2 separate regions of the Homo sapiens genome follow, and region 1 is linked to region 2. Evidence: fine-mapped expression QTL. A gene starts in region 2. The other region holds a variant in brackets. All regions are shown on one strand. Distances are from middle to middle. Region 1 has its middle 19 kb from the start of MIR3188. Region 2 holds the start of LSM4 (LSM4 homolog, U6 small nuclear RNA and mRNA degradation associated).

The links. PIP is the estimated chance that this variant, and not a neighbour inherited with it, causes the effect. A credible set is the group of variants that fine-mapping cannot tell apart.
Region 1: its variant is the best candidate, but not a certain one, in a credible set for the expression of LSM4 in whole blood (INTERVAL, PIP 0.87).

The regions. Positions count from the first base shown.
Region 1 is chr19:18,299,660-18,302,564 of GRCh38, forward strand. No RefSeq gene overlaps it. Among named protein-coding and RNA genes, the nearest start is that of MIR3188, 19 kb to the left of the region's middle. RefSeq lists a cis regulatory region at 1,391-1,810. The variant T/C (reference allele first, on the strand shown) is at 1,333.
Region 2 is chr19:18,321,470-18,324,374 of GRCh38, forward strand. LSM4 (LSM4 homolog, U6 small nuclear RNA and mRNA degradation associated) reads right to left here and starts at 1,607. Exons shown (of 5, transcript NM_012321.5): 1 at 1,549-1,607. The coding sequence starts at 1,551. It overlaps LOC105372300 (a long non-coding RNA gene), which reads left to right. Exons shown (of 2, transcript XR_007067157.1): 2 at 265-528. RefSeq lists a silencer at 1,488-1,667 and enhancers at 1,728-1,947, 2,146-2,748.

The DNA of each region.
Region 1 (2,905 bases), 22 kb before region 2:
GGGGGGGGTCTTGCTTTGTCACCCAGGCTGGAGTGCAGTGGCGCAATCATGGCTCACTGTAGCCTCAACCTCCCTACTCAAGTGATCCTCCCCCTTCAGCCTCCTCAGCAGCTGGGACTACAGGTGTGTACCGCCGTGCTTGGCTAATTTCATTTGTTTTGTAGAGGTAGGGTCTCACTATGTTGCCCAGACTGGGATCCTGGGCTCCAGCCATCCGCCCGCCTTGGCGTCCCAAAGTATTGGGATTACAGGCTTGAGCTACTGTGCCCGGCCAAGAACCATTTTTAAATCTAATTAATTTTTTTTTTTTTGAGATGAAGTTTTGCTCTTCTTACCCAGGCTGGAGTGCAGTGGCGAGATCTCAGCTCACTGCAACCTCTGCCTCCCGGGTTAAAGCAATTCTCGTGCCTCAGCCTCCTGAGTAGCTGGGATTACAGGTGCCTGCCACCACACCCGGTTAATTTTTTTGTTTGTTTGTTTTGGTTTTTTTGAGACAGAGTCTCACTCTGTTGCCAGGCTGGAGTGCAGTGGTGTGACCTCGGCTCATTGCAACCTCTGCCTCCCGGGTTCAAGCAATTCTTCTGCCTCAGCCTCCCGAGTAGCTGGGACTACAGGTGTGTGCCACCAGGCCTGGCTAATTTTTGTATTTTTAGTAGAGACGGGGTTTCACCATGTTAGCCAGGATGGTCTCCATCTCTTGACTTCATGATCCGCCCGCCTCGGCCTCCCAAAGTGCTGGGATTACAGGTGTGAGCCACCACGCCCGGCCAATTTTTATATTTTTTAGTAGAGACGGGGTTTCACCATGTTTCCCAGGCTGGTGTCAAACTCCTGACTTCAGGTGGTCCACCCACCTCAGCCTCCCAAAGTGCTGGGATTACAGGCATAAGCCACTGCACCTGGCCCATTTTTTTAATTTTTAATTTTTTTTCCCAAGACAGTCTTGCTCTGTCACCCAGGCTGGAGTGCAGTGGCATGATCTCGGCTCACTGCAACCCCCACCTCCCAGGTTAAAGCAATTCTCCTGCCTCAGCCTCCCGAGTAGATGGGATTACTGGCGCTCACCACCATGCCCGCCTAATTTCTGTATTTTTAGTAGAGACTGGGTTTCACCGTGTTAGCCAGGCTGGTCTTGAACTCCTGACCTCGTGATCCGCCCGCCTCAGCCTCCCAAAGTGCTGGGATTACAGGTGTGAGCCACCACCCCCAGCCATTTTTTTAATGTTTAAGGAAAACTGCTGGGCAGTGAAGGTCTCCCCAGACAATGTCACTGAGCCCCGGCCTCCCCAACCTGGTCTGAGATTTCAGGGGGTTTCAGAAGAAGCTGACCTT[T/C]GAGAAGGCTCTGGGGCCAGGATGTCTGAGTTACTTGATGCTGGAGGGGTGGGGCAAGGAGGGTCTGGCCCTGGTGGTGCAGAGGAGGGGAGATGAGGGTGGGGAAGACACTTGAGGACGTGAGGAGTATTTTTAGGTGCTGAATGCAGCCCTGAAATATTTCCACGGCCACTCCCGAGAGCGAGCTGGGTGACTATTTCGGTGCCTGGTTCCAGTGGAGGCGGGGCAGGGGTGAGTCACTCACTGCCCAGTGGCCGCAGAGGCCAGGCCCAGGCTGGGAGGCGGCTCGAAGGGCAGGATCGCAGGCCTGCAAGGTGAACGGTCACTGGCCTGGGGCCAGGCTTCCTAAGCCAGCCTCCAGGGCACAGAGGACAGCGGCCTTTCTATTCCCCATGGCACTGGCCAATCCAGAGGGGCCACTGCCTGGGTGCCCTGGGACAATGAGCTGCTCACGCCAACCCCATAGTTGTAAAGATGGAGGGTCCCCCGTGAGGTTCTGGACACCCCACAGGTGCTAGGCGAGATGCCATCTTAGATTATTTCAAGCATTTATTGAGCACTTGCTGTATACCAGGCCAGTCCTAAAATGATTACTGGCATCCTCCCTTCATGCAATCTGCCCAATAACCCCCATGAGGTAGAGCTGCTGTTATCCCCCCGACCAGGGAGGAAACTGAGGCACGGTAGGGTTAAGCCCTCCAGGCACCTAACTATGTGCCTCAAATCCTGTCCCTCAGCTGATGTTACAATCAGGGGAGTGAGTTTTAAAGCAGCAGCCGATCTTGCTTACCCCCCACACCCTATTCCCAACCAATTTTGGGGTCCTGACTGTGCCTGAGCTGGGAGAAGGTCAATGGATCCTTCAGGTTTAAGGAGGCAGTGGAAAGAGGAGGTCACCATTGCTGTGTGACCTGGGGCAGGTTCCTCACCCTCTCTGTGCCTGAGCAGTGAATGACGATGCCACCCTATGGGTGAGTTCCGGAGCTGCCTGGCACACATTCATGATAGATAAACAATGGTTGGCTGAGCATACTGGCTCAGGCCTGTAATCCCAGCACTTTGGGAGGCTAAGGTGGGAGGATCGTTTGAGCCTAGGAGTTTGAGACCAGCCTGGACAACATGGTGAGACCCCTATCTGTAAAAAAAATAAAAAACAATTATCGGCTGTTGCTTGGATTGTGTGCCTGTCCTGAGCCTTCATTTCTCCATCTGTGAGGACCCTCGGAGGTGCTGGGTTGGAAGTGGCTTTGGAAACCCACGGGGCTGAGCGGCAAGGCTGAGTGGGAGCTCGGGGAATCCTCGCCCTCACTCGAAGTCTCCTTGAGAAGAGGCTGATGCTTGGCCGGGCGAGATGGCTTACGCCTGTAATCCCAGCACTTTGGGAGGCCGAGGCGGGCGGATTGCCCGAGGTCAGGAGTTCGAGACCAGCCTAGCCAACATGGCGAAATCCTGTCTCTACTAAAAAATGCAAAAATTAGCTGGGCGTGGTGGCGGACGCCTGTAATCCCAGCTATTCGGGAGGCTGAGGCAGGAGAATTGCTTGAACCTGAGAGACAGAGGTTTCAGTAAGTGG
Region 2 (2,905 bases):
TATAGGCCAAACTAACCTTGGGAAGGGATTTAGTTTATAGTTTGACTCTGGAACAAAATTGGTAATAGCCCTTTCCCGAAAAGACCCTCTTCTTGCCTGGGGACCAGTCTGCCTTTGTAGGACTAACAAATAAGCTACAAGATTAGAAATTACCATTTAGGTAACTTCAGCCTCTGGCTGCAAGAGTCTGAAACTCCCCAAATTGCTCCTTGGGATAACATCACTATTATAAAATCTAAGATCAGTGCTTGAGATATTTTGCAGACCCCGTACTTGACGGATCAGCTGACACTACCCAGACCAGTAATCTGGCTCAACCAGTCCTGCGATCCCACCCAGGAACAGAAGACAGCAAGAAAACCTCACTTCAACACTCCCGTCGATGACTCCATCGACCTCAGGAAGCTCCAACCAATCAGCACTCCCCACTTCCTGAGCCCCTACCCGCCAAATTATCTTTCAAAACTCGGATCCCCTAATGCTCAGCGGAGACTGATTTGAGCAATAATAAAACTCTGGTCTCCTGCATAGCTGGCTCTGTGTGAAATACTCTTTCTCCACTGCAATTCCCCTGTCTTGATAAATCTGTCTAGGAAGACAGGCAAGGTGAACCCATTGGGTGGTTACACACTGACCAGCCGGATTTAGGGAGAGTTCTCACTAATCCACAGTTCTGATGCAGCCACCCCTGGGGGACCCTCCTGGTTACTGAATCTCCCACTGTCTCACAGAGTCTGGAAGTCACATCCCCAACAAGGGCCTTGGTTTCTCTCATTGAAAAAAGAAGGACCAGAAGCTGATGGGCCAGGAAACTCCCAGCTCTGAATTCCTTTTCCGATCTGCACAGTGGGGGACACGGGCACTTTCTAGCCCAGATCCAGAACTTCCAGAATCATAAACAATGGGCCCTGCAGAGACCTGGGCCGCAATTTTTCCTTCTTTGTATTGGGAGGATGTACTTTGTCCACCCCTAGCTCAAAACGCCCCCTTCCGCTGGAATGACATGCTATGTGACCCAAGGAGAAACACCACACCCCAGCACCAGGCCTGCTTTTCAGCCAGAAACCAAGAGGCCTAGGAGGCTGTGCTGCTAGCATCTTGCAAGCTCTGAAATTCCTAAAACTAAGTTTCACAACTCAGACTGGCCCCCTACTTCCCAGCACTCTAGTTTTCAATCAGGGAGGTCAGACTGGGCCCGAAGCGTAAGGGACCCCTTCCCTGCCCAAAAACTCTCTGCTGCATTTGGCGGATCCCCACCTTTTTTTTTTTTACTTCAGTTTCCCCACCTGCAAACTGGGAAAACTAACTAAGGCGAGGCCACTGTACTGTGGATACAAGTCCGTGCAACCCTAAATCCCAGACACGAACGTGATAGAGCCACCTGCAGTCTCCGGCCTCAGTTTCCCAGCCTCGTGCCGGGGGGCGGGACTCGAGGCTCGGACCTTACGTTCGCCCCGCGCCAACCAAGCCCACAGCGCCCGCCCGCAGGGATCCCAACGACTGCTGTTCCCGCCTCCCGGTGAGACCCCGCAGTTGCCCTGCCCTCACCATGGTGCCGGCGGGGACCGGGCTCGCCGGCCACTTCCGCCGCCGCCGCTGCACACGCTCCCGGCGGTCGTCGCCGCGCCGCGCGCCACTAAGCTGAAAGAAAGTGGCAGAGACGCAAGCCAGTCAGCACCGGGCTCGAAGGGCGGTCAACCAATCCACGCGGAGTAGGGCGGGGCCCGCTGGGCGAAAGGGCGGGGCGGGCCGTGTTCCCGCCGGAGGAACGAGGACGAGAGCCGTAAAGTGCCGCGGCTTGTAATGCAAAAGGAGGCGGAGCAACGCGCGCCGGCGCGGGGTGCATTGTGAGGAAATGCGTGCGCAGGTGAAACCTTCGTCGGTCTCCTGGGCTCCACGCTGTGGGCAAAGCCAGTTAATGCCTTTCGTTTGCAGTAGAGAGAGAGAAATCGAGGCTTCGTGGTGATTGGGCCGTGCCTGATGTTGCCCTTCCGACTCCTAGTTTTCTGATTCTGTAATTATCCAGGGAACATCATTTAATAGGTTGGAATCCTGACCACGACCCTCGGGGCCTCAGTTTGCTCCCTGTAAATAGTAGTGTCTGCTCCAAAACGTTGCTTACTGTAAGGATGAAATGAATGAAACCATGTAAAAGCACTTAAAACAGCGTCTGGCACATATTAAGTACTTATTACCTACTCTGTGCCTGTTTCTGCTCACAGAATGAACAAAACACAAAATTCGTGGCCCTCAGGGAGACAGACAGTAAACAAAGTAAATAGGCGAATGCTATTAGTTTTCTGGGGCCTGCTGTAACAAATGCCCACACACTGCGAGGTTTAAAACAACAGAACGTGATTTTCTCACAATTCAAGAGATCAGAATAATGAAGTGAGGTTGTCAGCACAGTTGGCTCCCTCTGGAGGCTCTGAGGACAATCTGTGTGTCCTATGCCTCTCTCCTGGGTTCTGGTGGCTGCTGGGAATCCTTGGAGTTCTTGGCTTGTAGATGCAGCCTTCCGCGTTCTGCCTTTGTCGTCACTTGGCCTTCTCTGTGTGTCTCTGAGTCTCAAATGTATCTCTCCTTTTTTTTTTCTTTTTTTTTTTTGTAGTAGAGACAGGGTCTCCCTATGTTGTCCAGGCTGGTCTCGAACTCCTGGGGTCAAGCAATCCTCCCTCCTCTGCCTCCCAAAGTGCTGGGATTACAGGCGTGAGCCACCGAGCCCGGCCGCTCCTTTTTCTTGTAAAGGACACTCCTTTCTCTTATTAAGTCCACCATAAATTTCAGGATAATGTCATCTCAAGATCCTTAATTACATCTGCGAAGACCCTGTTCTTTTTTTTTTGAGATGGAGTCTCATTCTATCACCCAGGCTGCAGTGCAGTGGTGCGATCTCAGCTCACTG